3 separate regions of the Homo sapiens genome follow, and regions 2 and 3 are each reported to be linked to region 1. The links are microRNA targets in miRTarBase. Many come from high-throughput screens and were not tested one by one. Region 1 holds a microRNA gene; each other region holds the end of a gene's coding sequence.

Region 1 (10,996 bases):
CTAATTAAGAATCTGGTGCACTCTTACTAATGAGAGTACAATGAAATGAAACTAGAAATATGGAATTATAAAAACCGCTGGCAGTTCATTTTAGCTCAAAAGAAAATCTTCTCCCATAAATAGATTCAATTATTTTTAGTTCTTCAAAGGCACTGAATTGACTTCAATTTAGTCTTGCTTCAACATATAAACTAGTTTCTAGGTATACTATCAAGAAGTTTAATAATCTGACATTTATTGATCTATAAACCAAGATATGGTTTTATATTTCCTATGAGTAAATATGCATTTAAAAAAACAGGTTTAGGCCAGGTGCAGTGGCTCACTCCTGTAATGCTAGCACTGTGAGAGGCCAAGGGGGGTGCGGTGGATCGCCTGAGGTCAGGAGTTCGAGACCAGCCTGGCCAACATAGTGAAACCCCATCTCTACTAAAAATACAAAAAATTAGCCAGGCATGGTGGTGGGCGCCTGTAATCCCAGCTACTCAGGAGTATGAGGCAAAAGAATCGCTTGAACCTAGGAGACAGAGGTTGCAGTGAGCCAAGATCACGTCACTGCACTCCAGCTTGGGCAATAAGAGCAAAACTCCATCTCAAAAAAAAACAAAAACAAAAACAAAAACAAAAACAAAACAGGTTTATAAAGAAGCTGCTAAAATCCAGTAATTTCTAATTAGTCTAATTCTTCATTTCTTCCTCTTCCAACAACATCCTTCAAAAGCTGTGGGAGATGGTGAGTTTGTATGTATTGAAGGGAGGGATATGTTGTCTCCAATTGTCTCCATCTTTTTTTTTCTTTTTTCTTTTTTCTTTTTTTTTTTTTTTTTTGAGATGGAGTCTTGCTCTGTCACCCAGGCTGGAGTGCAGTGGCACGATCTCGGCTCACTGCAACCTCTGCCTCCCGGGTTCAAGCTATTCTCCCACCTCAGCCTTCCAAGTAGCTGGAACTACAGGCGCGCACCACCACGCCCAGCTGATTTTTGTATTTTTAGTAGAGACAGGGTTTCACCATGTTGGCCAGGATGGTCTCTATCTCTTGACCTCGTGATCCGCCCGCCTTGACCTCCCAAAGTGCTGGGATTACAGGTGTGAGCCACAACCCCCGGCCTGTCTCCACCTTTTCTAATTCCCAATTCCCATCAATCTAGTCTTGTATCTAGAAGTGGTAAATTAAGTCAATATAAATGTGCCAAAGCTAAAGCAGAAGGTATTTGTTTTCTACACTCTTCTTGGCTTCCTCCTAGTCATCAACCTTGTCTCTCCTGATAGCTCCTTTTCCATCTCCCTAATCACCAAAAGCCCAGAAATTAAAACAGTAAACAATTCCCCTGAAAGGTGCCTTCCTTGTACTGTCTAAAACAAATGCAATCCTCTGTGTGGGCATTTAAAACACCACAAGCATTCTTACTTAGATTAAATCATGGGTCTCCCTGGTCTCCAGGCATGCCTAGACATGAACCATAAAGGGAATGAGATCCTTGGAGTTTCTCTAGTAACTGCAGGCCAAATCAACAGCAACCCTAAGAACAAGCATTCTTTTTTTTTTTTCAACAGAACTAGGCCACACATATTTTTTGTCGTTATTTAAATTTTTAGTTGTACTACATAGAAAATAAACTCATTTTAAAAAGTTATTTCAGTAGGCAATGCATCTTCATGACTTTTACATATGAGTTTTATTTTTTATTACTTTTGAAGAAAAGTCTGTAGAAACCTACTTTTCAAGGCATCTGACCCAACCATTGCCTTGGATGGCAGCAATCCAGCTCAGGTAAGATATTTAAGATGCAACTAATAATCATAAAACATCAGTTGGGAAGAAGTGTTCGATATAGTATTGGGTAAAAGTGACTAACAATTTGGTAGAAGAGAATCATTTTTATAACTATCTCCTAACCAAGATTTCTCTAAGTCTGCATATTGTTAATGGAATGAAGACTATTTTGCTCCTAGTTTCATGTATGTATATTTAGGTGAATGTGAGTCATTTATGTAATGTGTGCTAAAACACCGTGCCCCTCACAAAGATAAGATGAATACAAAATACAGTTATTGTAGATGGCTTGTCTTTCACAATTTAATTCTACGAGTTAATTTTTACAATTAACATTTTCTGTGCTACATATTTTGTATTTTGGTTTCTTTCCCTTCACTATGGGGTGTACAGAACAAAGTATGCATTTGGAAAAAAAGTGCTGTCTTTCATATGCAAAGAAAATGCTATAACTTATTCAAACATCCTTGGGCAGTTCTTTAGTTGTTTTAATAGTGTGAGTTTGTAGTTTGTATTGAATGATCCAGATGACCTGCCCCTGTTCATGTTACTTGTGGCATCTATGAGACCATTTGCTGGTTTTAGGGAATCAATCTATAGGTGGGAAGTTTTCTTTTGCAGAAACTAATTTAGAACTAAGCCTTTGGTGTCAGCAATGGGTGCTCTATACTGGATGCATGAAGACCATATTTCTAGGGGAGGCTGCTTCCAGCTGAATTTCACAAGGTGAGGATAAAGAGAACATTCCTTATCCTCTCCTGATTAATTCATTAAAGGCAAAGGAGGGGAAGGAAAGTTATTAGCAGAGATCTCCCAGAAGTCCTCTGTAACTGTCCCTTTTGCCCAACTGTCACAAGATACTGTTTTTCTGGCATCCACAGCCCTAACCCTGAATATCCAAATGTACTCGTGCATCAAGGATCTACTCAAGTCTCACCTCCTCTGGGAACCTTCTTTGACCTATTACAGCTCTCATTGAGGACCTCCCTTCTATTTCTGATACAAATAGTTTCTACTATTCTAAATAGTCCCTAGTTTAGTAATTTATTATATATATACTGTCTTGAATGGTATGGCCTTGATCTCAAGAGGACCACGATTTGATGTAACTAACAAGCTGCCTGGCTCACTATTTGACTAGAAGGCCCAGGCTTCACATCACTGCATGGCCCTCTAAGAGTATAAGGCCAAGTCCCCAACAGAGCACAGAGGTGCAGATGAGACTCTCCAAGCCATCCTCCCATATGTCAGAGGCTACCCAAGCCCACCTCCATTTGGAAAATTCAAACCTATAATTTGAGGTACCTGGGAAGCCGCTTTCCCAGGGCGGAATGGTCACGGAAACTGGGTAGGCTGGGGGCCTTCTTGGGGAATGAGGGAGTGGAGGAGCTCTTTGTCCCTCCTGCTAGATCAGAAAGAGAAACGTCTCAAGAATCTGGGCCTCCATCTTCTAGGCGTCTCCCTTGGAGGCCCTTCAGGGACCGCCCACAGCGCTTTCTCTCAGCCTCCTCCCCCCCCCCATCCCCTCCCCCACCCGCCCCGTCTCGCGCCCGCCCCGCCCCTCGGCCCGCGGGGTTCCAAGGACGGTTGGTCGCCCCCGCCACAGTCACTCGGCCGCTCAGAGCGGCGGGGCGCACGGGGTCGAGAGAGCCAGCTCTAGGGTTTGGGGCTGGGAACTGAAGCCTGGCGTGAAGGAAGTGGGAGCCCGGGCCGAGGAGGCGAAGGGGAAAGGAAAAGCGAGGGGAACCTGAGCGGGAGGGCCCTGAGAGGAGCGGGAGGCTGCGGGAAGGGGAGGCCTGGCACTCCTGGGGGTCATGGGGGTCGGGGCGCGGCTCCCGGCCTGGGAGGGCGCGGGTCCTCCCCGGCAGCGCCGCCCGCTGGCCCAGCTACGCGTGTTGTGCGCTGCGAGGCCGGCGGGGGTCCCGCTGGGCCCGGGGGTGTCCTCGGGGGCCGCTTGCGCCCAGCCATGGTAGGGCGTCCCCCGGTGAAATGGGGTCCGAGGCGGGCCCCGACCCCGCGTCGGCGCTGCGGACCGTCCGGGAGCTGCAGCCGCGGGTGCCCGGTGCTCGGTTTGTAGGCAGTGTCATTAGCTGATTGTACTGTGGTGGTTACAATCACTAACTCCACTGCCATCAAAACAAGGCACAGCATCACCGCCGCCCGGCCGGGAAGAAGACGCCGGCTCGGGCAGCCCGCAGCCTTCGAGAGAAGATGCCTGAGAAGCGCGGCGTCGGCGTGGGTCCTGCGCAGCCTGCCCCGCGAGCGCCCGCTGCAAGTGCGAGGAAACCCGCGGTTTCTCCAGATACAGTTAAACTGTTAGCTCTCTCTAGGAGTCACAGAAGATGAAACAGTCTCATGCCAGGAAAGCAAAATCCCTGGAGGTGAAGCCCCTCCATCCATGTAACGGTTAATACTGTATGCTGTGATTCACTGTGTCTATTTGCCATCGTCTAGTAGAGTATTCACCAAGCTAGCAACTCAGTTGAGCTCCAACTCAACCAATGAATTGCCTGCCTGTCACAACGTGTTGGGGTACCAACTTGAGACTGCAATTTTTTCTATGAGTCTAGTTACTAGGCAGTGTAGTTAGCTGATTGCTAATAGTACCAATCACTAACCACACGGCCAGGTAAAAAGATTTGGGAATTCGTCCAAATGAGCTGCCTGTGCATCATCAATGTGCGTGGGGAAGAGGGGTGTTGGAAAATGCTGATTTCATCCATTGCCTATTAATTGCTCAGCCAAAAGAAAAAAATCAACATTTCAGCTACTAAGTTTACAATGTATGTAATGTGTATGTATGTGGGGTTTTGTTTTGTTTTTTTTTCAATATTCCTTCAGGCTCTTAACCAAAATTTTAGATATAAGGGGGAATATGATTTTTTTCTTAGCTGACTGATGTATGTTATTATATGAACATGTGATTATTAACTTCTTGAGACTATATTGTTAGTAATATTTTGAAAGTAATATTGTTAGTAATATTTCGAAAGAATAAAGTGCCATAAAGACATAAATTGTGGTTATTGCTATGTGTCCATTTCCTTTGCTAAATTGACTTTATGATGTCCATCTCAGTTCCTGCCACAGTAATCTTAACTTTTCTATCAATGAAGTGGTTAAGTTGTTCCTGCCATGACAAAAATCTCCCGGGAAAGCTACTCATACACACAGACTTGTTAATACTTTTATAAGAAATACATTAACAAAATTTTTCATACTTCTTTTTTCCATGAAGAGACTCTGTTCACTCATTAAGATGTATCCCTTCTTTTAAGTAATCATTTACAACTGTTGGAGTCTATGCAACTTTTAGTGGGAGTGATTAGTAAATGCACTTACACTTTAAATCCAGCTTGTTTCCTAAGATTTAAAGGATTCAGAATTTTAAAATCACAGAAACTGTACACATGGGCACGTATCCGCCCAGTTCAGGCCTCTAGCTCCCAAGGGCTAGGCTTTCAGGCGTGAATTCTCCAGCGCAACGTTCTCAGAACTTCCACCTAGCAGGTGCTGTCCCTGGCAATCTGGTTTGGAAGTGGGGATTGGGGCAATGGGGCTGAGGAATTTAAAGTTTATTTAGCTATCTTTCTGGGGGGAGGGGAGAGGATGTGGCAGCCCACTGAGGATATAAGAAGCTAAACTACTCCCCCACTGACTCCGACAGGACACAACCCAAAGTTGACGTTTTGACTCTCCCATATCCAAGATTTGGACTGGTCCTAAAACCTGATCACCGCAGGGGTGGGCTTCCGACGGCCCCCACGCGCGTGGCGGATCCCAACACCTACCTAGGAAACCGAGGGCAGCCGGCAGGGGCTGGTACCAACTTGGCGGTTCTCGGAGGGGCGGGGCAGGGGCGGGGCGGGGGGAGGGGAGAGGACGCTTGCAGAAGCGTCCTCAGTTGCCATGGAAACGGGACCCAGCGAAGAACCTAGCGGCCGAAAAGAGTCCCAGGAAATGTGCCCCCCGGGATTACTGGTATTTGCTGGCTCCTCGGAACAAGATGCCAACTTGGCTAAGCAGTTCTGGATCTCGGCGTCGATGTATCCCCCTAGCGAATCTCAGCTGGTGCTGCGCAGAGACAGCAGTCAGCGTCTGCCGGTGGCGCGGCCCAGGAGGAGCAGAGGGTCTGGTGAGTAGAATAGCGGCCTCCTGTCAGTCATATCTGCCTCACCGTAACTGGCCTGCAGGTACCAGAGCCCTTTCCAGGAGAAACTGCAATGGTATATACAAATAGTTATAAGTACATACAAATGCATGTATAAATATTTCCTGAACCCTTCCAGCAACCCTTCCACCCGAAAAGGATCAGTGGTATATATGTTACATCTAAAAACATATAAGTTTCCCTTAAATTATGGCATCTATTTGGTAAACAGTATAGAATAATCTGAGGAAATGCTATGTGTTGGCTGAAAGGATAGTTTACATAGTTTAATTCAAACATGAAAAGCCCTGGAGAAAGATGAAGGTGGAGTCAACATTACCAATGAACTTCCTGGACCTGTGAGCCCTTAGTGAGGCCTAGGATGTGGAAACTGTTATGCAATTGTTATAGTATAAAAAATTCAAACGCCTTTAATGTTGTTGACTTTTCCAATGATTTCTTTACTTCCCTTTTGTATTTTTTAGAAAACAGCCACTCCTCGCAGTCTTTTCACCTTGCGAGTAACAGTAAGTACCAAGTTTTATGCCTTTCAACATTCTGACTCCTAGGTTCATCAGAAAATAGACAATAAGTACAAGGGTACTACTTTACACTGTGGTATAACTTTCTGAATTGAACACCTAAGTCCCTGCTCAGGGACCACCCTGTTTATCCAGAGGACAATGCCTAAATTCCTTTAACAGTTTGAACAGGAATGTAGAAATTGGAATCTCTGATCCTGCAGATATGCTCTCTTTCGAGACTTTTTCTTGTCTCTGGACTCGAGCTTACTCATCATCTAAAGAGATTAGAGGTTCCCTGCAGCCATAGCTAATTAACTCAGTCTCCAGTTGTTTGCAAATCTGGTTTGTAAAGTTCCAATACACCACATGTATTTTTGTTTACCTTCCTACTCTATGTATTCCCTTTCAACCCATGTCCAATTTTATATCAATTTTAGTATAAAATCATAATAAAATTATTTCAGATTGAATTTGACTTTATTCCCTCTAGAAAATAGAGACATCTTTGCCGAAGCCCTAAAGATACAGGAATCTGAGGAGAAAGTAAAGTATCTCCAAAAGGTAGGCCAATATTTCAGAAGGTCATCTGATCATCATTAAATTTCTAAATAATCTTGATTTTTTAAACACATGTATATTTAAAAATCTGCTACTTCTAGTGCATCAGCTTGAGCAAATTAAGGAAACCTTTATTAGAATTTTAATTGAAAATTTAAAAATTCTATTCAACATTGGCTATTATCAATCTCAGCAAAAGTCCAAGAATGTATAGGAACAACAGAACCAGAGAGAAATAGAAAGAGGTAGAGTCACACACTTTCCATCCAGTAAGGTCCCCAACCATATACAGTGTTCTAAGAACAGAAATAGCATAAGAGGCCAGGTGCAGTAGTACACACCTACAATCCCAATGCTTTGGGAGACCTAGGCAGGAGGATCCCTTGAGGCCAGGAATTCAAGACCAGCCTGGGCTACATAGTAAGACCTCTAACTCTACAAAAAAAAAAAAAATTTTTAATTTGCCAGGCCTGCTGGTGCATACCTGTAGTCTGAGCTACTTGGGAGGCTGAGGCAGAAGGATCCTCTGAGTCCAGAAATTCAAGGCTGCAATGAGCTATGATCTCACCACTGCACTTCAGCCTGGGCAGCAGAGTGAGACACAGTCTTAAAAAAAAATCATAAGAACAGGAAAAATCAAATAGAATTAATTGTCTTAATAGGTCAAAATTAAATGATCAGAGGAATGAGTCTGTCATCTAGACCTGTTTTGACTAAAGGCTGGAATTAAACACATTGGTGTAGTCAAATCAGCTGAGCACAGTTCTCTTTCTGGCAACATCCTTTGTTTGCTTTTCATGATACAGGCATGGCCTTTAACTCAGCAATTAATACAGTGATTTATAGAAACATTTAGTTTGATTAATGTATAAATTATACTCCTGTAACTGTTCCTATACTGTAAAAGCAAAAATAGAGGATTCATTTTGGCTGAATATCTTTAATCATTGGACATATTGGCAAACTCTGACAGACTTATCGGGAATTCTACATAAATTACAAAACAATGCATTTGAGTTTGTTTATCACATTAATTCACTTTGTGGACTACTGGTGCTTCCCTCAAACAAATTAGGTAATTAGAAATAGCCAGCATTTTATTCTCTCTTTAGAATATTATGTACTGTATATTTATATCCAGACTTTTTAGGGAGGGGGAAAGCCTAATTTTCAGTGAATTAAAAATCATTAAAAGTCAACTTCAGTGCTTTCGGAATTTAATTTTCATTTTATTTCATTTTAGGAAAGGATTAGAAATAAAAGGTTAAAGACAAACTATTATAAATTTCTATCAGCTTTTGTCAAACAATAAGACAATATGATGTGAATTACCAGTGGAGGTTATGCTGATAGACTGTTAGGCTAATAATCTTAGAACTGGATTCCTTGTCTTGGCTCCTTCTATGAACTCATCTTAATTACTAAATTCCACAGATATTTATTGAGAACCTGCAAGTACTATACTAGCTGCTGGGGATCCAAAGATAAGATGTGATCCCTTATCTCAAGGAGTTTACAATCCAGTGGAGGAGACAGCCAATTAAAGTCAATAATTATTATATATTATAATATCATGATAGATATATGCACATAATACTATGAGAACACATTGAGGGACATCAAAATCAAGTGTAACAAATCAAGAAAGCTTCCCAAAGGTGCTGGGTTTTAAAGGATTTATAGTTTGTTAGACAAAGAATATGCAAAGCAATCCCTCACAATGTATTAGTTGTCTTCCTAAAATCCAAATATGATTATACTAGCCCTCCTGCTTTTTTTTTCCCCATGGCTGCCCATTTCCTTTACAAGATCAAGGCCAAACTCCTTAGCATGTTTGAATTCCTTTCCAATCCAGTCCTAACCTGTCTTCTCCTATCACTCTCCCCGCTTTCTCCTATGCTCTCTCCCCAACTCTGTATAGTTGGATCTCAACCATGCAGGCCAAGGAACACTATTTACACCTTCACATATATGCTTGCAAAGTGATGAACAGGAAAAGTATATTTTTGTTATACCTAAACATGCATAGTATCTGCCAAGTTGTTCATTAAGCCTAGTGGTCCTGCACTGCAATATAGAAGATGATTCCATTTGTTGACAGTAGAAGACAAGAGGCCTAACAAAACAGTAAGGCAGTGGGAAAGAAAGAGAAGTTACTGAAACTGTGCCTTCTTAGTATATGGGGAAACTTAGCACTATCTAGTACAATTCAATTTGAACAATGCCAAAATACAAAAGGGCAACCAAAAGAATCCTGAAATAACTGAATTGTCTTATAGATATAGTGAGATAACATAATTTAGTGTTCATAACAACCAATTATTGAATGTATATTAGGTACTGTACACTAAACTAAGCAATTGACATACATCAACTCATATACTCCTTAAAATAGCCCATTATGATTATCACCATTTGGCCAAACAAGGCCTAAAATGATTTTCCAAAGTCCCCACAACTGGTAAGTGGCAGAGCAGATTCAAAGCCTGCAATCCTAACTCCAAAGTCCATGAAATTAATCCCATAATAGATTTGTTGTATCATAATGATTGCTGACTATGGCATTGTTCAAGTATGCTGCCAAATATTCTAAAATTCAAAACTATGGTATGAATACAAATGTGAGAAGCACTATTTCCAGCTCTGGAACTATAAGCTGGTTCTCCATTCTGCAGTGCACTTTCATGTATCTGCCTGAAATGCTCTTCCCCATTTACCTTCAAGGCCTAACTCAAATGCCAGCTTCTGTGAAGCCTTCTCAGGGGTTACCCAGAGACTAGCAGAATGAATAGATCTCTTCTCTGTGCTCCCACGGCAAGCCACATATCCTTTCTCATAGTATTTGTACAGTCTCTGATGTGTATTGTAGGTAATTGTGTATGTTTCTCTCTTTCCTGCTAGATTACAGGCACCATAGTGTAGTAGATTTTGGAGACAACAAGATGGGTTTGGAAGCCTAACTCTGCCACTTACTATTTGTGTGACCTTGAGCAAGTGGTTTAACTCCTGGGATGCTCAGCTTCCTCATATATAAAAAGAGAAATGATTTTTTTTAATATCCTCCTCATAGAGTGATGTAAGGTATGTGAAGTGCCTGGCCACAGTTTACCCTCAACAAATTCACTCTATAAAGGCAGGGGTCATGTTTTATTTGCTTAACCTAGTGCCTTTTTGGTTATTAAACTCAGTAAATCTTTGTTTATTGAATAAATAAATGCATAATTAAATGAATTAAAGAGTAAATGAAGGCCCTATATATTGATATTTCAATTTTGTTTAGCTTTTCCACATAGACTCATCTGGCAAATTTTTCTAGGCTGATAATCTTTACTAGAATACTCCCAAAATCTAATCTGTTAGCACATCACCTCTCCCTAGTTCTGCTTTATCTCATGGGTTATGGATATAATGGGAGGAAACGTAACTCCCTGTAATTATTGAAACAGAATCTGGTTTTGGATACCACTTTTTTTCCTAAATCGATAATGTTGTCTCTGCATTGCTGCCACCACCATTCTAGAATTTTTAGCTTGATGTTAGAAAATAGATGAGGGGAGGGTATCTTTTTAACTAACGAAGCATTTACAATGATCTATTTAAGAGAATCTTCTACATGTTTTGAACATATACATTGATAAGTAAATTCCAGGTATAATTTTCATCTTAAATTGGAAAAAACATTACCCATAAATTCTCTTTAAGGTTTATTCTTCCACTTTCTCCTTAAAATTAATGAAAATCTAAAAATTAATTTCTCTCTGAAAGCACCTTTTTAACTCTCCTCAACGGATATTGATTTTTCAGTTGTTACAGTTTTTTGCACTTGAATATTATTCTCCATTTTGGAATATTTTCCAGGTATACATTATAACAAATGCTTTTGGTTAGTGATCAAAATGCTGTTAATCACAATTGCTATTTCTGTGATGGATATCCATGGCAGGAAATCAAAAACAATTGAGCCTGTCAAGATTAAATGGCTTGCTCTGT
Region 2 (10,996 bases), not on the chromosome of region 1:
CCACCCCCTGACAGGCCCAGGTGTGTGATGTTCCCTTCCCTGTGTCCATGTGTTCTCATTATTCAACTCCTACTTATGAGTGAAAACATAACTGTGTTTGGTTTTCTGTCCCTGTGTTAGTTTGCTGAGAATGATGGTTTCCAACTTCATCCATGTCCCTGCAAAGAACAGGAACTCATCCTTTTTTATGGCTGCATAGTATTCCATGGTGTATATGTGCCACATTTTCTTTATCCAGTCTAACATTGATGGGCATTTGGGTTGGTTCCAAGTCTTTGCTATTGTGAATAGTGCCACAATAAACATATGTGTGCATGTGTCTTTATAGTAGAATCATTTATAATACTTTGGGTATATACCCAGTAATGGGATTGCTGGGTCAAATGGTATTTCTGGTTCTAGTTCCTTGAAAAATGGCCACACTGTCTTCTATAATGGTTGAACTAATTTACATTCCCACCCACAGTGTAAAAGCATTCCTATTTCTCCACATCCTCTCCAGCATCTGTTGTTTCCTGACTTTTTAATGATTGCCATTCTGACTGGCGTGAGATGGTATCTCATTGTGGTTTTGATTTGCACTTCTCTAATGACCAGTGATGATGAGGATTTTTTCATATGTTTGCTGGCCACTTCTTCTTTTGAGAAGTGTCTGTTCATATCCTTTGCCCACTTTTTGATGGGGTTGTTTTTTCTTGTAAATTTGTTTAAGTTCCTGTAGATTTGGAAATTAATAGATTGCAAAAATTTTTTCCCATTCTGTAGGCTGCCTGTTCACTCTGATGATAGTTTCTTTTGCTGTGCAGAAGCTGTTTAGTTTAATTAGATCCCATTTGTCAATTTTGGTTTTTATTGCCATTGCTTTTGGTGTTTTAGTCATGAACTCTTTGCCCATGCCTGTGTCCTGAATGATATTGCCTAGGTTTATGGTTTTGGGTGTTACGTTTAAGTGTTTAATCCATCTTGAGTTAATTTTTGTATAAAGTGTAAGGAAGGGGTCCAGTTTCAGTTTTCTGCATATGACTAGCCAGTTTTCCCAGCACCATTTATTAAATAGGGAATCCTTTCCCCATTGCTTGTTTTTGTCAGGTGAAAACCAATTTTTTAAGGCAAAAGATAAAAGAAGTTTCTTGTACTGATATTTGATGTCAGGGAAAAGGGTTGTGACAATGGATGTTTATTGTGCCTTGCCTTGAATGTGTATTGTACCTTACTGCTTTCAAAAAATAAAGTAGAAAAAAAAAGACAACATTGTTTATTACCAGTGTCAATATATGTGTTGACCTTTTTTTTTATTTTTATTTATTTATTTTTTTTTGAGATGGTGTCTCACTCTGTCACCCAGGTTGGAGTGCAGTGGCGCGATCTTGGCTAACTGCAACCTCTGCCTCCCGGGTTCAAGCGATTCTCCTGCCTCAGCCTCCCAAGTAGCTGGGATTACAGGCAACTGCCACCACGCCCGGCTAATTTTTGTAGTTTTAGTAGAGATGGGGTTTCACCATCTTGACCAGGCTGGTCTTGAACTCCTTACCTCATGATCCACCCGCCTCAGCCTCCCAAAGTGCTGGTATTATAGGCGTGAGCCACCATGCCTGCCTGGCCTTTTAACCCAAGTTACATTATAGAATTAAGCTAATAGTGTGTCTTGTGACCCCAGAGTTTTAACTGTGGAATTTCTGCCTCATTTGGGCCTTAACTTATTTGACTTATCGAAGTCTCTGCTTTAGCAAGTACTCATGATTCTTTTGAACTAAGTACACTAATAGAGTAGTACTATAGCCGAGCATGGTATGACATGCCTGTAACCCCAGCTACTTGGGAGGCTGAGGCAAGAGGATTTCTTGACCCCAAGAGTTTGAGACCAGCCTGAGGCAACAGAGCAGGACCCTGTCTCAATTTTTTTAAAAAACAGAATAATTTTTAAGAAAACATAAACCTCTTCTCTAAAAAGTGGGAGTAGTGAACTAATTCTTTCTAACACATGCAAATATTAAATGTTTCATATATATATATAGCCACTAGCATTAAAGGGTACAGGTAGGGCTTGATCAAAAACTTTGTTAATTCTCATAATTACAAAAGGAAGACACACTAAAACTGGCTTGGGGCTGCATTTGCTTGGAATTTGTGATCATTTAATTCATTTGAATACAGAAAGCAGAACTTAATTGGGTGGAAGGTTTTATTGTGTCTAAAGTGAAATATGAAAAAATATATTTTACTGCCTAGTTTATAAAGAGTAAGGTGATATTTATTTAAGGCCAAGATTATAAGACAGACGTTTTGTTCACATGGGTTTCCAGTGGAGATGGAGCAAGGGGAGTGGAGATGAAGGTAGAACTACAAAAAATGTTTATATACCATCTGTAATATTTTAATCCATTTCTATAAAATGTTTATCTAGAAACAGAATTATTTCCCTTTTTTAAATTTGTCTTTCTTTTTAGGCACTAACCAGGCTGTATCTGGACAAGGCCACCTTAATATGGAATGGAAATGCTGTTTCAGGGCTGGATGCCCTAAATAATTTTTTTGACACATTGCCTTCTAGTGAGTTCCAGGTCAATATGTTAGATTGCCAACCAGTTCATGGTAAGATCATGATCTTTCAAGATGCTTCCTTTGTTTTCCTCTAGTAAGCACTGAGCTTTTACACCAAAAGCAGCGAGAAACTTTTAGTGGTAGAACTATTTACTTACTTGAGCAAGTTAAATATTATGAAAAATGTAACTGTCCAGTCAAACTTTGGTCTTCCTTCAGATTCTTTCCACTAGTAGCTTTTGATGGATTATGTGATTTTGGCTTATTAAAAGTTGTATGAAAAGTTGAGATTAATGTGATTTTTGTAAATGGCAGGGAAAGATTATCTGATTTCTCTAAATAGTTGCCTGCTGGACCCTGAAATGTCTCCAGAGTAAAATTATACCATATCTCTGATTAATGTGTTCAGTATCTTACAATCTACTAATATTTCACAGAAATTTACTCTGTTATGTGAAAGGATGACTTTTTACAAGAAAATTTGATTCCAGGTAGATTGATACAGTTTAATAAAACCTCTAGGTGGGGTCCTAAGTGTCTTAAATTGTAGTTCAGGGTGATTTTTTTCCTTTATAATTCCTGAAAAGAACAATAGTTTAAGAAGCAAAGCATGAATAAGCTCTGTTAGAAACCTGAAATATTAATTCTGAAATATTTATATATATATGAAGCAAATGGTCCTATGCTAGATATAAGCTCCTCATTTTGAAACTAGAGTATCCCAAAGTTTTCTGGACTGAAAATAATTTTAATATCTTTTACTAAGTACTTAGTTTTCTGGGTTTGAGTATGCATGCTTAAGATTATGCTCAAGGGACAGAAAGTGTATGAAAAAAATTTTAAGCATTAGTCCATAAACAATGTATTTTAAGCCTGAAAATCTGCTTATTTAGAGATAGAAAATGATGTGTTCTCTTTTTTTTTTAATGTGGATGAAGAGCAAGCAACTCAGTCCCAAACTACAGTTCTTGTTGTGACCAGTGGAACTGTGAAGTTTGATGGAAACAAACAACATTTCTTCAACCAGAACTTCCTGCTGACTGCTCAGTCCACTCCCAACAATACTGTGTGGAAGATTGCAAGTGATTGCTTCCGTTTTCAAGATTGGTCTAGTAGTTAAAGGGGCAAAAGTCCATTCTCATTTGGTCCATTAGTTCCAGCAATTGAAATTTATGTGAATTATTTTGATTGTAGAAGCACTATAATATGTGCTGAAACTAAATTTCTTTAATATTTTCTATTCCTGTCAGCACCTTTTCTAGCAGCTGCCAGTTTGGAGCATTGCCCTCTAAGAGCTTTAAAACTATTTTTTTACATGCCTTATATACATTCCACTAATGACATTCTTATAATAATATTAAACACATGATCTTGGTACTAACATACTCACTGTGAACCCAGCCTATTGCAAAAATAAAATCTTTTTATAATATTATCTATGGGATGTCAGCACAATATAACACTCTGGGAAGAAGTGGAGTTTTTTGGTTATTAGGTTAATTTTCTAGTAAAACACGTTGCCTGTTTTCAGTTAACACTGGTAATGCCATTTTAATATATGGCTTTTTCAAATCAGTTCAGTGAAAATAGTACAGATTTAGGTTTACATAACTACTCTGACATACTGGAATTGCATATAGAGATGTTCAGTGGTCGTTTTTCATTTTAAGTAATTTTTGTTTTGGCATTTTTTTGTGTGAAGTAAATTAATCAACTAGAGAGGTGCAAAACGTTCTCAGTTGATATCTGAGTATTGGGTGCATTTGGTGGCTTAAAAGCAAAGCTTCCTAAAAAGATTTTTCTTGGCAGCTCCAGGTCTATACATTTAGGTAATGAATGGTAGTAGAACTAATAGCTTTAACAGGAGAATAGGGAATGAGAAATAGAAATCCAAGGCTGAAGCCAAAAGTAAGGAGGGTGGCCAAATGGTAAACTATTGGTACTTGTTTTCTACCTCCTAAAAATGTAGCTTATTTTTAGGATTTAAATCACTAAGTAAATAAGTATCCTTGCCAAGTGATCATGAGTGTCATTTTTGTTCTAAGACTAATATTTTTAGATCTTTTTACTTCACCTCATACTTATCACCAATGTATATCTCCATTTATTCAATAACTTACTGGGGTAAAATAACAGCAATAAACCTAACCTTTTAACAGGGTCTAACATGAGAGTTGGAGTCAAAGCCATTGTTATCTTTTGGTGACACCCTTAAATTTTAAGTCTTCCAGTCTTCCATGTGAACTTTAGGCCCAAAGTTTCTTATGTATCACACATCCCCCAAATAAGTGATTTTTTCCCAGTGCTTTGTACTGTCAACTGCATTATCTTTAATTATTTAAAGGTAGAATTATTTAATTTTGTGATTTGTTCTTCCATATGACATTGAGCAAATAGATCTGTTTCAAAATATGTTCCCGCTATGTGGATAACTCTTCTTTTTAAAAAGAAAATAGAGAATAGCAAATCTTCATGATAATCCTCAAAAGAACAAAATGCTTAACTTTATCTCTTAATTTCTAAAGGTAAATAACCTAGGTTCAGCTTTTGCTTAAACATTAAATATCTTTTCCATTTTTTAATGTTTGTAAGCTAGATATGCCAGCTTTGTTTCTACATTGCAACCAAAAACTGTTTCTTTTCACTTAATTATAAAACCAGTAATTCATTTACTCTTGCCCAAAACTATACACTGTATTTCTGTTATAGTAACAAAATAGAGTTATGTAGAATTGTATGGAACTCAAATTTAAACCATGCTTTCTTGTAGTACTGATTGAAACTTACACGTTTTATTCTACTCATAGTGAGCTTATTCTTATTTTGGATTGATTTTCCAAAACCACAGCTTCAGCAGCAACAATCAGAATGTCCAAATGCTGTCCTTTCCCTTACAGAGAAGAACAATGGTAACTAAAAGCTGCATATAACTAGCAATAACTACATTGAACGGTGTGCATTGTTCATGATTGTTGTGTTTTAAGACTTGTATATAAACTGCTTTTTCCAAACTCTGTATAACTTTTAAATGGCTGGAACTACTCGTATAAGGACTAGACTGTATTTTTGACATGCTCCTATTTTTGTAACTTGAAAAAATAAAATTTTGCCTTGTGACAGATTTTCTCAAGATTGTTTTAAGGTCTTTTGATTTTTGTTCTTAGGTTTCAGAATGGTTACTTGTTTCTTTACAATATAAGGTTTTTTAAATTTAGAAAAAAATTACAGTAGTGTGTTGACAACAATGGTTAACAACTTGGATCTTCTTTTGGTTCTTTCTGTAACCTGCCACATCTGTCTCCTTTTCCTGCCAATTATTCACATTCCTGAGATCATCACTTGTTTGAGATACCTGTAGGTTTTTGGTGAGAAGTTGGAAATCTTAACCTTGAGAAACCAGCTAAAATGCTATATTCGATAGGCAGTGAAACCAAAATACAGTTGATTTCCAGAAAGAATGGTTCATTAAATTTAATTCTACATTAAAAATATGTCAACACTACTGGGTAAATAACGAAATGAAGGCAGAAATAAAGATGTTCTTTGAAACCAATGAGAACAAAGACACAACATACCAGAATCTCTGGGACACATTTGAAGCAGTGTGTAGAGGGAAATTTATAGCACTAAATGCCCACAAGAGAAAGCAGAAAAGATCGAAAATCGACACCCTAACATCACAATTAAAAAAACTAGAGAAGCAAGAGCAAACACATTCAAAAGCTAGCAGAAGGCAAGAAATAACTAACATCAGAGCAGAACTGAAGGAGATAGAGACACACACACACAAAAAAAAACCCTTCAAAAAATCAATGAATCCAGGAGCTGGTTTTTTGAAAAGATCAACAAAATAGATAGAGTACTAGTAAGACTAATAAAGAAGAAACCCCTGTGGGAGGCAATTAATTCAAAGAGAACTACAAACCACTGCTCAACGAAATAAAAGAGGACACAAACAAATGGAAGAACATTCCATGCTCATGGATAGGAAGAATCAATATTGTGAAAATGGCCATACTGCCCAAGGTAATTTATAGATTCAATGCCATCCCCATCAAGCTACCAAGAACTTTCTTCACAGAATTGGAAAACACTGCTTTAAAGTTCATATGGAGCTAAAAAAAGAGCCTGCATTGCCAAGACAATCCTAAGCAAAAAGAATAAAGCTGGAGGCATCATGCTACCTGACTTCAAACTATACTACAAGGCTACAGTAACCAAAACAGCATGGTACTGGTACCAAAACAGAGACATAGACCAATGGAACAGAATAGAGCCCTCAGAAATAATAACACACATCTACAACCATCTGATCTTTGACAAACCTGACAAAAACAAGAAATGGGGAAAGGATTCCCTACTGGTGCTGGGAAAACTGACTAGCCATATGTAGAAAGCTGAAACTGGATCCCTTCCTTACACTTTATACAAAAATTAATTCAAGATGGATTAAAGGCTTAAATGTTAGACCTAAAACCATAAAAACCCTAGAAGAAAACCTAGGCAGTATCATTCAGGACATAGGCATGGGCAAGGACTTCATGACTAAAACACCAAAAGCAGTGGCAACAAAAGCCAAAATACACAAATGGAATCTAATTAAACTAAAGAGCTTCTGCACAGTAAAAGAAACTACCATCAGAGTGAACAGGCAACCTACAGAATGGGAGAAAATTTTTGCAATCTACCCATCTGACAAAGGGCTAATATCCAGAATCGACAAAGGGCTAATATCCAGAATCTACAAAGAACTTAAACAAAATTACAAGAAAAAAATCCACCCATCAAAAAGTGGGCAAATGATATGAACAGACACTTCTTAAGACATTTATGCAGCCAACAGACACATGAAAAAATGCTCATCATCACTGGCCATCAGAGAAATGCAAATCAAAACCACAATGAGATACCATCTCACACCAGTTAGAATGGCGATCATTAAAAAGTCAGGAAACAACAGGTGCTGGAGAGGATGTGGAGAAATAGGAACGCTTTTACACTGTTGGTGGGATTGTAAACTAGTTCAACCATTGTGGAAGACAGTGTGGCGATTCCTCAAGGATCTAGAACCAGAAATACCATTTGACCCAGCCATCCCATTACTGGGTATATATCCAAAAGATTATAAATCATGCTGGTGTAAAGACACATGCACACATGTTTATTGTGGCACTATTCACAATAGCAAAGACTTGGAACAAACCCAAATGTCCATCAATGATAGACTGGATTAAGAAAATGTGGCACATATACAGCATGGACTAATATGCAGCCATAAAAAAGGATGAGTTCATGTCCTTTCTGGGGACATGGATGAAGCTGGAAACCATCATTCTGAGCAAGCTATGGCAAGGACAGAAAACCAAACACCGCATGTTTTCACTTACAGGTGGGAATTGAACAATGAGAACACATGGACACAGGGTGGGGAACATCACACACCGGGGCCTGTTGTGGGGTGGGGGGAGTGGGGAGGGATGGCATTAGGAGAAATACCTAATGTAAAGGATGAGTTGATGGGTGCAGCACACCAACATGGCACATGTATACATATGTAACAAACCTGCATGTTCTGCACATGTACCCTAAAACTTAAAGTATAATAAAAAAAGAAAATTAAAAAAATATATATGTCAGCAGACTTTTTTGGAGGGGAATGAGAAGAAGCAACAGCCAGCCAGGCATGGTGGCTTACGCCTGTAATCTTAACACTTTCTGAGGCTGAAGTGGGCAGATCACTTGAGCCCAGGAATTCGAGACCAGCCTGGGCAAAATAGCAAGACCACTGTCTCTACAAAAGTAAGTTAGCAGGGCAAAATGGCATATGCCCAGCTACTCAGGAAGCTAAGTTGGGAGCATCGCTTGAGCCCAGGAGCTCAAGGCTGCAATGAGCCATAACTGCACAACTGCACTCCAGCATGGGCAACAGCAAGACCTCATCTCTAATTTTAAAGCACAGTAATAGCTCTTAAAATTAAATATCATATTTTATCTCTTCAAAGATGCATGTATTTTTCACATTTTAACATCTCTGGAATTGGTACAGATCTTAAATTGATGCCATATTATAGTTGTGTCTCATTTCCCCTTTCTCAGTGGTAAAGTAATGGTGAGTCTTATAAACAATGGCATCTTAGGAGTTTTGCCTAGATAAAAATGGCTAGGAATCTACTTAGGTCTAAATTTGTAGGCGTTAGTGGAAGTAAAAGGCTGTAAGCTTACAAGACTAATAATTCATGACTCAAACAAATTCTGTCACCATGCCATTTGTATTTCTTGAGTAGCCCATATGGCTGTAAGAGCCACAGATTCCTCAGTGAATTTGAGTCATGGTAACATTTTCATACTTTTTGGAAATCACCTAGTAATGTATAGTGTATCTATAAAGATAGCCCCAGTAAGGTTCAAGGATAAGCACAGTGTTTGGAAAAGGAGCAGGAAGTCAAAAGCCAAGAAGGTACTGTGAATTCTTTTCTGAAATTTTGATGAATTCACTATTTGCCTGAAATTGGGCAGGAAATTTGGTAGAAGGGGATTCCATTTACTGATTTTTGTTATAAGCCTGTGTTGTCCTTCCTGTCCTATGTGTGCTTTAACATAACCACACATATTTAGGGGAAAATGGTAAGGCATTTTTGGCTTTTTGATTTTGTAGTTGGCTCTGTATAATAAAAGTATTTCATCGAAACACTTTTTTCCAAACTGCTGTATTCTATTAATAAATGCTTACCTTTTGCCAAATGCAGCTTTCTTTACAAAAGAGTTCTCAGTGACTCTCAGTCAGCTATGTAGGTCAGTCTAGCTTTCTAGGGAAGCAGTAAAAGGTAGAAAAATGTATTGTTGGAATAATGTGTCAGATGGAGGGGTCTTAGGACACAACATAAATCTGGGATTGTGGTATATGCATTCTTTAGAGAGAGAGCTTTCAAAATTTTCACTATGACCCACAGTGAGAAGTATATTTTACATCACAACCCGGTATACAGATGCACAAGTAAACCTATATATGTGGGTGTATGTGTGTGTGTGTGTGTGTGTGTGTGTGTGTGTATAATGTCCAAAATAAAACTCACGTTTACCACTTGCAGTGTGGTCCTTGCATTTTCTATTTCATTCTATTATTTTTTTTAAATGCTGGTCATAAGTTGCTCAACTGATTTTTTTACAACTTCCTAACGGGTTGTACCATCAGTTTGAAAAACACAAAAATAGATCAAGCATATTTTCACTATCACTTTTGAGTAGGGGTATAGGGCTGGCTTCCAATAGGTAGTGCCATATATCAATGATGTCACCCTGACTTAGAAGTGACCAAAAACTTCTTTCTCTTCTCAGGTTTTTCATATTTGTTGAGGGCCATGAAGGGCAGCAGTGTTTGCCTCCCGTTCTTTGGTTTGCACGAGAAGTTCAGAGCTAAGAAAGCAAATGTTTACATAGTCTTTAGGCAGAGTCTGGGAATAGAATGAGCGGCAATGAAAAGGAGTTGAAATGGAAGGAACTGTGCTATTTCAGGTGTCCAAGGAAAGAAGTGAGAAGGCTTTCTAGCAGGACCACTTTTGAACATGATCTGATATTATGTAAGCTGTATTTTGATAAATTTTAAATTTCATGTGTTTTTTTCCTTTTCCTCCCTCCTTGAACACCCCAAACATCTACATATCAACTCCCCTTGTTTGACAAAGGCTGTGGTGGTCTCTAAGGTGTAATCCTGGTCCCAGACCCAAAGAAGACCTGTGTTCTAAGGCTGTTCTGCCCCTAATGTGTTTTGTGACTTTGCACAATTCACTTACTCTGGGCCTCTCTCTTCAGCTATTGAATGGAAATACTATTTGTCCTATCTGGCCCACCAAGTGGTTGTGAGAATCAAATAAGGCAACAAACGAAAATATTTAAGTGCCACGTGCTACACAAATACAATGGTTATAGTTTTTGGCTTGATGATTGGTTTCCTCCCTTCCAAAAATTCTGGTTTTCTTTAAGGGTAAAATCAATTGAGAGTGACTGTTTCCCGCAGCCAGACACTCATTCTAAACCTTGCCCCTGACTTTACCAGGTAGTTGTTAAACCAGCTCCGCAAAAAAAGTCTAAGATTAGATTTATAGAGATGGTTATTTTACTGTTAAAAAAAAAAAAAAGGATTCAGGGCCCTAAAGGAAACGATAGTAATTTTGCAAATGTATTTTCAAGTAGTCTTTCTGTAACTAGAAAAACAAAATTGACTGTAACATTATTCATTCCAATTCTCTTGCTCAACGGCAAGAAATTGGCAGTAGATGCCTGCAACACTTAACCAAGCCCAGGTACCACGGTCTGACTTGGAAACCTGAGCTGCCTGAGGTAGCCAATAAGCACTTTGTTTTCCTGACTCTTTTTTTTTTTTGAGAGGGGTCTCGCTCTGTCACCCAGGCTGGAGTGCAGTGGCCTGATCTCAGCTCACTGCAAGGTCCACCTCCCA
Region 3 (10,996 bases), not on the chromosome of region 1:
CTTGTCTTTCTACTTTGCTTATGGTGAATTTTGGTGCACAAATATTTTAGGTTTTCACATAGTTACATTTTATCAGTCTTTCACTTTTGCTTTGTCTAGATCTTGTCTAAGAAATACTTCCCTACCTCAAGATCGTATTTTCCGGTCAGGCATGGTGGCTCACTCCTATAATCCCCGCACTTTGGGAGGCCAAGGCAGGTGGATCACCTGCAGTCAGGAGTTTGAGACCAGCCTGGCCAACATGGTGAAACCTCATCTCTACTAAAAATGCAAAAATTAGCTGAGTGTGGTGGCGGGCACCTGTAATCTCAGCTACTCGGGAGGCTGAGGCAGGAAAATCACATGAACCCAGGAGGTGGAGGTTGCAGTGAGCCAAAATCACCCCACTTGCACTCCAGTCTGGGCGACAGAGTGAGACTCCATCAAAAAATATATATATATATATTTTCCAGTATTTTCATCTAAAAGCTCCAAGTTTTGCATTTCACACTTAGTCCTTCAAATCTTTCTTGAGCTTAATATTTGTGTTTGATTTGGGGTAGTGATCCATTTTCTTCCATTTGGAAAACCAGCGGTCCCAGTACCCATTTATTGACTAGCCCACCTCTTCCTCACCAATCCCGCAAGGCCATTTCTGTCATCTGTCAAGGCTTGGGCTCTCTGCCCTGTTCCACTGGTCTTTTTGTCTACCCCGGGTGACAAACATGCTGTCTTAATTACTTTATTTAAAAAAATAAAAGGGTCTTTGGCATTCAGTAAAGCAAGTTCCTCCACCTCTCCACCTCATTCTTTCTCAAAATTATTTTGGCCATTTTGGGCACAACTTTAATCTTTCTCCTCTCCTTGATTTGCCCTAGCCTACTACAAGCAATCAAATGGCAAGACTTAAAGTAAGCAGAAGGGAGAAATCAAGCCAAAGCCAGCCCTGGGTAGTCCATAAGCTGAATATTTGGTTCCTAATAACTAAGACATTGCTGTGTAGTCAAGAGTATAGACAGCCTATATATTAATAAAAGTAGAGTATGTGTTTACAAAAAAAACAAAACTATTTTTTTAAATCTTTTCCAGGCTATAACAAGGGCCACATTTAAAAATAGAAACTGGAGCCCATCCTCTGGTCAGTACCAAGGTTCTTGCCTTTATTTTTAAAAATACTACTTTTAAATCTATTTTTTGCATACAGATAGTCACAGAGAGTTTTGTGAAATAGTGCTAAAACTGTTCACTTTTGCCTAGATCCCTCAGAACATCCAAACCAAAGGTCAGTCACTAGGAGACATCCCAGGAGCATGCTAATTCCATCACAGCAGGGCCTAAGAATGAGGTCATCTTTCTCTCATTCAAGGGAGACCTTAGTTTCCTGCTCTCAGCGACACTTCCATAGCCTCATGATAGCTGCTTGGTGTTCTACAGTGTCTCCAGATCCAGACCCTCTTATATGGACCGCAGGACAAAAGGACTCTGGCCACCCAGCAGGCCATGGGCATGCTGTCCACGTGAGTTGGCGTCCCTCACACTTTCTCTATCTCATTCCCTTTCCATTCAGAATCTCAAGAGAAAGCTGGTTCTAGAAGGTTCTGTGTAACCTTCTCTGGAATGTTTTGCTGACTTCCCATAACTTGCATAAAGGACAAGTTCCTTTGAAACCCGAGTTGTAAAAGATCTTCCTTGCCCAGGTATTTAAAAATAATTCATCCTTTAAGTCAGAAATATATGCTGGATGTTGTCTTCCTGCAGACCAGCCCCTGCAGGCTAAGGCACCTGCTGCAGGGGGAGGGCCCCGGGAATCCCTGTGGCCTCCTGCAGCCCTGCTTCCGGCTTCCCTCTGCCCTCGGATGCCCGTCAGGACTGGAGCCGGAAGGTTCACTGACTGACCTTAAAGGCTGGCCCCTACGTCCTTTCTCAGCCCGAGCAGAGGCCCAGCGCTCTGCCGTGGAGGGCCTACCTCACAGAGCCTGGTCCGCAGAGAGCAGCCCCAGGGCTGCCTGAGTCTGCTCAGGGAAACAGGGCCACAGCCCGGAGCAGACACAACCTGGCCAGCAGGGCGCCATCCCCTTTGAGGGCAGGGAAGGCGAGCCAGGGAGGCCTCCAGTGCAACCCTGACCATCCTCCTCACCCATGTCCTGCTCACCAAGCCAGCTAAGGGTTGAGGGCCTCAGCTCAGTGAGGATGGTCACAGGTGATTTTAAAAGATGGGAGGGGCCAGGCGAGGTGACTCATGCCTATAATCCCAGCACCTTGGGAGGCCGAGGCGGTGGATCACTTGAGGCCAGGAGTTTGAGACCAGACTGGCCAACATGGCAAAACTTCGTCTCTACTAAAAATACAAAAATTAGCTGGGCGTGGTGGCATGTGCCTGTAATCCTGGCTACTCGGGAGACTGAGGCATGAGAGTTGCTTGAACCTGGGAGGCGGAAGTTGCAGGGAGCCGAGATGGGGCCACTGCACTCCAGCCTGGGTGACAGAGTGAGACTCTGTCTGAAAAAAAAAAAATTAAAAAAATAAAAGATGGGAGGAAAACATCTCATGTTTTATGCTCTGTGCTACAATTCTCCTCTCATTTATAGCCCCTACCAAGTCTTCTCATAAATGGGTCTGGGCACCTGCTGGGCAGCAAAGGCTGGATGGGAACGGTGTGGGGGGCTGAGGGGCACCACACTCACCCCACCCTCTGCTTGTCTGCAGGGCCCCCAAGGTTGCTTCGAAGCCAAGGCAGGCATCAAAAGCCAAAGTGGCCTTCTGCACCAGCATCCCTCAGGACACCCTGCTGGGGAAGGCCCGGCCCGGCACAACAGCAGACTGAGGCCCCCACCCTGAAAAAGCCTAGGACATTCCTGGGCACTGTCATTTAGGGTGCTGTACAAATCACCTCCGCCTAGAAAATGGAATTCAACAGTCAGGATACAGATTTCCAAGGCCAACTGTTGGCCCCAACATGCAACAGTGAGACCATAAGCCTCCCGTGGGCCACATTTTGACAGTGGATGCCCTTCAGGGTGATATATGCTATAAAGCAGTTTTCTATCACCTAAGTGGTTTTTCTTGCCAACAAGAATTTTTACCCATCAGCACTACTGTGGCTGAAAAACTTCTCTTCAACAGTTCAGTGCGCCCTGTGCAGGAGTCAGCCCGGCATCTGCTTGTACACACAGCTCCTTGCATAGGTGTGGAGTTAGATCTGGACAGTGAACTTCAGGAAGTCCTTTCTTATAGGAGGCTAATAGGGATTGAGAATAACATGAGAAGAAAACGCTAATAAAGGGAAACCTGAACACGCTGCTGTCAGCATGTGTTTTCAAAGTGCAGCCTGCCTCAGAGTTCTTCGGAGCCTGAAAAGGGGTTTGAGAAAGAGCCCAGTAGGAGGGGCAGGAGGCCGACACACCTGACTTGGCCTGGGGCCCAGGAGGCAGGTGTAAGGGAGTGAAAAGAAAGGCTAGCCGGAGGCTGCGGGGGGAAGACCGCAGACTCCCTGCTGCTTCGCATCCCTCCTGTGGCCTCCACTGCAGGCAGGACAAACCTGGATGCCACCTGGAGCTGCTTCCTGAGTTGGCACACTATCGTGTACACAGCAGTCTTCAGCCCCCTGGAAGGAGGCCATAGTCGTGTGAGGATGGCAAAGTCGAACAGGAAGCTTTGAGTGCCTTCCTCCACGATGTCAACGAGGAGATCCAGTGCCAGATCGAGGTGGATGGAACACCCAGGGGTAGGGGTGCAGGTGTGGGCAGTGATGTCCCTTCCCCTCCCTCCCCTGGTCCCACAGACTGTGGCCATGAGGCTGCAGGCTGGTGCTATGACAGCAGATTGCAGCACAGGGCCCTCCCCTCCAGCCCCCAGTGGGACATCAAAACCACCCTGGGGCCATTTGTGCAGGGCACCACCTCCAGTATTGATGGGGAAAATAAACTCAGTAGAGCCACGACAGGGTGGAGAGAAGCAGGGACCATTGTCTTCCTCAGGAGCGTGACAGCTGACCCCACAGACCATGCTTGCTGGTACACACTGGTCCCAGACCCAGGCCTGTCGGACATCAGCAGTGTGCTAAAAACGTGTAAGATGTCACTACTCACCGTGTGTCCTATCTAGTTGACATGGGTGGAGTCAGCTAAGGGGTGAATGTTCATATGCTCCCAATTCACGTTGAAGCCCTAATCCCCAAAGGGATGGTATTGGGGGTGGGGTCTTGGAGAGGTGATTAGGTTATGAGGGTGGAGCCCTGATGAATGGGATTAGTGCTTTATAAGGAGAGACACCAGAGAGATGATCTCTCTCTCCACCATGTGAGGACACAGTGAGAAGACAGCCGTCTGCAGGCCCGGAAGAGAGCCCTCACCAGGAAATGAAACTGTTGGCACCTTGAGACTTCCCAGCTTCCAGAACTGTAAGAAATAAATGTTTGTTGTTTAAGCCTTTCAGGCTACGGCTTTCTGTTACAGCAGCCTGAACTGAGAGTCCATGCCGAGTTTTTGAAATAAATGTGAATTCTGATGTTACTTCTTCCTTTCTGTACTTCTTGAAGCGTAGCTTGGAATCACAAAAACTAAAACACATTTTTAAAATTTAGCGCCCCCACCCCACCCCACCCCAGGAAGCAATGAATTTAGGAATGTTCCCTCCAATGTCTCCCATCTGTTAATTCTGTTGACTTCAACGAGAGGAAGACTATAGCTACTTGTGTTTTTCTATTTTTGGTAAAGGGCTACAAGGTTACAAACGGGTAAAGATATCTAGCTATTCCTTTGTCTCAAACTACCTCAGTTTTTTCAAGCCCCTAAGAAATGGCCATGCCTTAGGGTTAACCCTCCAATTTGCACTTATAAGGTAACCAACTGTCCTGGTATGCCCAGGACAGTCCTGGTTTTAGCACTCAAAGTACCACATCCCAAGAAACCTCTCCATCCCAAATGGGATGGTTGGTGGTGTCCTACTGCCACTAGTCATTCAGGCTGTGATGATGACATTTTTACCACAAATTGTCCAGTGTATATTTGATTACAAGCCAATTGGCTTATGCTCTGTCTGCCAGGCTTTCTAGCTCTGTGCTCCCAATATTGAGTTCCGATTCAGGTGAGGAATTAGAGAACTGGAACTTTTCATATATATTCTGCCCAGTAATTCTCTGCTACCCTAAAAACATGCATGTAAACACACAGATTCTTTACTTAGAGTTTAAAGGAAACATCAAAATCTACTGAAAATATTCATTCTCTTTAGGAACAATGTGGGTTTTTTCCTCAGATTTTTATTTTTGCACATTCTTGTGACATTTCCCATTGTAGGGAACAGGAGTTTAGCAAAATCAGCTTCTTAGATGATGTCATTCTAAATATACATCTTAAACAAACAATATCAAAACCACCAGTAGGAAACTGAAAAACACTCAGTGAGTACTGTTTTGTCTCAGTAACAATAAATACAAAAAGACTGGTTGTGTTCCGGCCCCATCCAACCACGAAGTTGATTTCTCTTGTGTGCAGAGTGACTGATTTTAAAGGACATGGAGCTTGTCACAATGTCACAATGTCACAGTGTGAAGGGCACACTCACTCCCGCGTGATTCACATTTAGCAACCAACAATAGCTCATGAGTCCATACTTGTAAATACTTTTGGCAGAATACTTCTTGAAACTTGCAGATGATAATTAAGATCCAAGATATTTCCCAAAGTAAATAGAAGTGGGTCATAATATTAATTACCTGTTCACATCAGCTTCCATTTACAAGTCATGAGCCCAGACACTGACATCAAACTGAGCCCACTTAGACTCCTCACCACCAGTCTGTCCTGTCATCAGACAGGAGGCTGTCACCTTGACCAAATTCTCACCAGTCAATCATCTATCCAAAAACCATTACCTGTTACAGCTAAAACAAAATCAGCACATCTCTGTCTGTATTAGAAACGACAAAACCTTACAAAGCAGTCACCTCCATACCAGTCTGACAATCACTAGTTCATTTGGCAGATGGACAACAAAGGTTTAAACTTGCTATTCCAATCAACTTTCTTTCCCTATCTGATTCATGGTGTTTTTAAAATAGTATCTTGAAAGCTGTGCTGCATTTCTCCTCCACTTATCAATGAAGAAAACGTGCTCTCCAGAAACTACCTGCGGTAGCCACTCCCAGGACCTGGGGAGACGTGCACCCTGGGGGTCTGAGGGCCTCCAGGTGAATCTGAGAGGGAAGACCCTCCAGTGCTGTCGTTGTAGCCTGGCTGAGGGTGGTGCTAGCTCAGACTGTTATTCCCCAGTGCGCCACAGTCAGTGCGATGATGCTGTGTTACTGGAAATACAGCTGAGACAGCATTATGTGAAAGAAGCTAGCCTGAACTAAAAAAAATGCGCTGCTAGCGAAACTCTTTTTATATATGATGCTACACTTTACAGACAGAAACTTTAAAACAATACTGACGTGTAAAATAAAATGAATCCAATGAAGCATGCTCATCCCAGTATCTTAAACTCGGTGGTGCCTATCTACAGGTCCACACTCCGCGGCCCATGAGCATGGGGGCCTTTCTCGCCCCCCAGGCCCGTCCTGGGTATCTCGGTGCTGGGCTGCAGGAGAGATATCCAGTTCCTTCCCCAAAACATCCTTCTATTTAATAAACTGTTTCCCTGGACAAAACACCCCAACTGCAATGACTTCTGTTCAAAGTGCAAAAAAAGCTTCCGTGAGGTGGGTTCATGGTTGTTATTGTATTCATCTTTCACCCTTGAGCTCAGAAAGACCTGCATCCCATGAATGGAGGGTTGGGAAAGGCATCTTTAAGAGGCACAGTCCACTGTGTGCTTCCAATTTTCCTGTACACAGCCAGCTTGCCGGTCCAGCTGCAGTCTGAGTATCGGCATTCTCTTCATTGTCTTCAAGGTCTACCTCCCACCAGTGAAATTAAATGTTTGGGTGCTAAGGGATAAGGTGCAGAGAAGCGCAAGTCTGCACAGTCTGATAGGAACTGGCCACTCCAGAAAAGGGCATTCAGACTGTGTGCTACTTAATGACCTAGTGCCAAAAAATGAAATGGTACTGTAAGCGATTCCCAATAATCATCTACCCTACCAGTGCCAGGGAACCTGTGCAAATAGAATGTGAAATATCACAACAGACTACAGCTGTCCTCGCCATAAATACTATATTGTTTAAAGTTCTGTACATAGAAAGCAATTCATTCAAGTCTTAAGATGAATTTAGCTCTATATGGCAAGTAATTTTTTCCTAAAGATGAAATCATTTAGCAAGAATTTTTTTAACATAAACAGTCTGCCTATTTCCCATTTCTTTTTGAAAAGACTTTTTAGAGTCTAAATTGTATTTATTTTTCCCCTAAAATGTTAGTCTGTTATTTCATATTAGCACATGCAAGCAAAATTTACTCTTAAATATATTACTTTAATCTGGTTAATGTTTTGACATCTATAATTAATTGTAGTTTCAAACAGATGCAAGCCATGTCTGTGACCAGGTGCAAAACATAGAAATTCATCTCCAGAAGTGGAGAGAAGACTCCAGGGAAAAAAGTGTTTTGTAAAAGTCCCAACTCAAAAATAAAATTGCAGTGCCTTTTAAGGCATGAATTAACTGGAAACCTTTACGGATTAACTATAAAGGAAATTGACCATGCCGGGAGTACTCTTTAAAAAAGTAAAAAAGGGGAGATTTTCATAGACTCCCTCGGCCTCTTAAAATAAGTTAAGGCCTTTGGATGTTGGCACGTCGCCAACAGGCTGCCATTAAAACAAAATGTTTCTGCTTATTAAAACCAATGCCCATCATTCTCCTCCTCCTCATTGTCTAGATAGAGGAGGGCAACTTTCTTTTCATCTGAAATCACCGACCTTTGGTCTACCATTCTCTGGAGCTGCACCTTCTTATCAAACATGGCCTGCTCCTTGCCCTGTTCTCTGTGGGCCTGGTCTCCTTCCCCAGCAGAGGCCTTAAAGCTCACACCAACTGCCTGGTCATTCCTACTGTCCGCGTCTCTCCAGGAACCACGGTCAGACACACCGAGAGCTCCCGCTTCCTGTGTCCGGCTGCGGATCGCCTCTACGTTACTCACATCCATCTGAAAGGTAAACGAAGTTTCTTTGGGCCCTGGTGCAATGTGCCTTAGCGTTCTGCTGCTGTCTGCTAACTTGCCTAGCTCAGGGGAGTCCGCTGAACCAGCAAGCACAAATGTTCTGGACACGGGTCCACGGATGGCAATGTGTTCAGAGGTTTCCGTTTCTGTAGGACCTAGTCGAATGTGCCTAAAGGATCTGCTAACACCCGATGTCATTTCTGCCCCTGATGTGTCCTCTGCACTATCCTCCTGGGGAGATTCAGAAACGACACTTTGGAAGGTGCTCTTTTCAGTCATAACGGTTTGTCTACCCGAGGTATGACTGTGAGTGGCCTGGTGCACATCTGCTGAGCCCTCTCCGTGCACAGTGCTCTCTGAGTCACCAGATTCCCCCAGTTGGGGAACCAGCCCATGGTAAACTATCTGCTGGGTGGTCTGATGCCTCTGAGGCCCAATGCTGATGTGCCTGATGGATGTGCTGCTCCCTGGCAACCCTTCCATGTGTACAGAATCTCCTATGACACCCAACTCCACCTTGTCTGAAAGTGGAGCTGTGAACTGGATTTGCCCACTGAACCCTTCTTTAGGGCCTAACTGGAGTTGCCTGACAGAAGTCTGGGTACCCACTGACTCTTCTGTTGCAAAATAATCACCAACCTTCCCTGCAGCAGAAATGGGGCCCTGAAAAATAATCTCCTTTTCAGCATGAAATTGTCTGCAGCCAAATGTGCTGTGCCTCCCTGATCCGTCCATATCTGCAGAAGACTCTGCTGGGCCAGGTTCTGGCGAGCCCCATGCCTCTGGACAGGCAGGGGCAGGGCCTAGGAAGATGACTTCTCTGGACAGTGGACTTTGACCGGGACCCAGCGTGACATGCCTCACAGACCGGCTGGCTCCGGTCGGGCTCGCTGCCTGACTTAGGTCACCTCCCGCACTTACCTCCACCACTTCTGCAGTGGGTCCTTCATATGACATTCGCTCAGTCCTCCAGACTTCAGAGGGGCCGAGTTTTATGTGCCTTGCAGCCTGGCTCACATCCTCCAGCACCTGTGACTGGGCAAAGCCTGTGGGGCTGCTGACCTCCACAGTGGCCGACACTGGGCCCTGGGGAGTGCGCTGTCCCGAGCTGTGAGAGGCCCCACCAGCAACCTCGCTCTCGCCTGAAGGGATGTACAGCTCCCGGGTGGCCCAACGCCTAAAGCGAATGCCAGCAGCCGGGGCCTCCGCTCCACCTTCCTCATCTGGGCTGCCAGGCGCTGGGCTGCGTTGCCTGCTCAGGCTCTCCCGAACCACCGACTCCACAGCCTTCTCCATCTCACTGGCCTCATCTTTGCTCAGCTCCTCCAGGTCTAACCGATCGGCATCCACAGTTTGTGAGACGTTGACTTCAGCAACCAGGGTCACGGAACTGCCACCAGCACCCTGGACCTTCTTGACATCCACGGAAACGCTCCCCGGCCCACCCTGCCCCTCTCTGGTGAGGGCGGACAGCTCCTCCCTCATGCGCTCGGGAAGGGTTTCCTCCAGCTGCCCGATGACCTCCACCAGCTGCTGCCGGGGCTCCTTGGAGGAGATGCCCTTCATGGAGGTGTGGAATTCGTGGGGTATTTTAATTTCTTTTTCAATGACTGTGGGTTCGGCATGAAATTCACCGCTTCTAGCTTGTTCTTTCCAGTGAGTGGAACCCAGGTCCCCCTCCAGAGAGGGCGCTGGGACATCCAAGGGCTTCACAACCTTCTCGCCCACTGCACCGTCCTTCTGTGTCCTCCTTCGAGTCCCCTGCACGATTTCATCCTGCCAAGAGTACCTGATGGTGGATTCCTCCTCGATGTGGATCTGCCCGTACACCGAGCCGTCATCTCTGTCGTGCCCCCCGGGGTGTTCATCTGGAGTGGACACAAAATAACTCTGCTCGCCCTCTGAATCACCTGCCTCTGTCACTTCTTCCACGTGAGTCGTGTTCTCCTGAGGCTGCTTGGTCCTTCGATGCTGATTAACTGAGAATGTGACATCGCTTTCTCCATAACCTTCCTCCTCCTTAACCAACCCCCAGGGGCCTGGCGACACATCTTCGACCTCCTCCACTTTGAATGGGACGGAAAACTCCTCCGGCTTCTCCCCGCTGACATAACTCACGGGCTCCTCCACGATCTCCACGTTGACGACCTTTGCTCTCCCCTCCCTCCCTTTCAGGCCGAGGTTGATGATGTCTCCTATCATCTGCTCGGCTGACTTGCCTTTCAGCCCCACTTCCTTAATATCCTTGCTTAAAAGGTAGTCCAGGCCAGCTTCATCGGAAACATCAACATCCTCAGTCAGTTTAGACTCCACAACTATTTCAGTCTTTGTTTTCCTTTCCCCAGGAAGCTCTTTCCTGTCCACGTAAGTGACTTTTGTGTCTGGAAAAGAATCAGCAGATGCTTCTGTCTCTGGAGACTGAGTGAACTGCTTCAGGATACTGGTAACGATGTTTTCTGCTACGGTTTCTGTCATGGAATCGCCTTGCAGAGAACCAGTGGCATCACTGGTGCCCAACCTGAACCGTAGCTCTCTTGCTTCTGCCTCTCTACCGGTCCCACCACCAGCATCCTTCACAGGCGTCTGCAAACCTTTCGGGGACACCTCTGCTCTTCTGTCCTGGGATACTTCTAGACTAATCGGCACCTCTCTCTCTCGCACGCTCTTCTCCTTCGGTGAGTCCTTCTCCTTAGCCTTCTCCTTCATCTGCTGGCTTTCTCTCTGTCTCGCTTCCTTATCTAACTTTGTCAATTCTTCCCATCTTAGGTTTCTCTCCTCGGAAGCCTTCTCTTTAGAATCGAACATTTTCTCTTCTGGCTTTGTTCGGATGGTTTCTGGTCTGTTTCTTTCTTGCTCCCTCGTGGCTTTCACTTCTGTTTTCTTTCCCAGAATGACGGTCCTCTCATTTGACCGTGTGC

What was found. Region 1 holds the annotated microRNA hsa-miR-34b-3p (CAAUCACUAACUCCACUGCCAU, at 3,886-3,907, shown strand). A microRNA usually pairs through its seed, bases 2 to 8, with sites in the 3' UTR of a target mRNA and lowers its output. Matches are read on the target gene's strand: a 7mer-m8 pairs with bases 2 to 8, a 7mer-A1 pairs with bases 2 to 7 and ends in A, and an 8mer does both.
Region 2: the mRNA of NXT2 is a reported target of hsa-miR-34b-3p. Seed matches in the 3' UTR shown: 7mer-m8 at 4,829-4,835.
Region 3: miRTarBase lists SYNM as a target of hsa-miR-34b-3p. Seed matches in the 3' UTR shown: 7mer-m8 at 5,944-5,950.

What each region holds. Positions count from the first base shown.
Region 1 is chr11:111,509,102-111,520,097 of GRCh38, forward strand. It overlaps MIR34B (microRNA 34b), which reads left to right and starts at 3,837; the gene lies at 3,837-3,920. BTG4 (BTG anti-proliferation factor 4) reads right to left here and starts at 3,285. Exons shown (of 5, transcript NM_001367975.1): 1 at 3,080-3,285. It overlaps HOATZ (HOATZ cilia and flagella associated protein), which reads left to right and starts at 5,677. Exons shown (of 6, transcript NM_001100388.2): 1 at 5,677-5,909; 2 at 6,410-6,451; 3 at 6,939-7,009. The coding sequence starts at 5,684. It overlaps MIR34BHG (MIR34B and MIR34C host gene), which reads left to right and starts at 1,501. Exons shown (of 2, transcript NR_147706.1): 1 at 1,501-1,771; 2 at 3,917-4,787. It also overlaps MIR34C. RefSeq lists an enhancer at 941-2,140.
Region 2 is chrX:109,539,028-109,550,023 of GRCh38, forward strand. NXT2 (nuclear transport factor 2 like export factor 2) reads left to right here. Exons shown (of 4, transcript NM_001242617.2): 3 at 2,448-2,592; 4 at 3,480-5,671. The coding sequence ends at 3,661. Among named protein-coding and RNA genes, the nearest start is that of NXT2, 7.7 kb to the left of the region's middle.
Region 3 is chr15:99,129,817-99,140,812 of GRCh38, reverse strand. SYNM (synemin) reads right to left here. Exons shown (of 4, transcript NM_145728.3): 4 at 5,220-10,996. The coding sequence ends at 7,755. TTC23 (tetratricopeptide repeat domain 23) reads left to right here. Exons shown (of 14, transcript NM_001288615.3): 13 at 1,414-1,496; 14 at 2,686-4,490. The coding sequence ends at 2,803. It overlaps TTC23-AS1 (TTC23 antisense RNA 1), which reads right to left and starts at 1,496. Exons shown (of 2, transcript NR_186223.1): 1 at 1-1,496. RefSeq lists an enhancer at 3,548-4,049.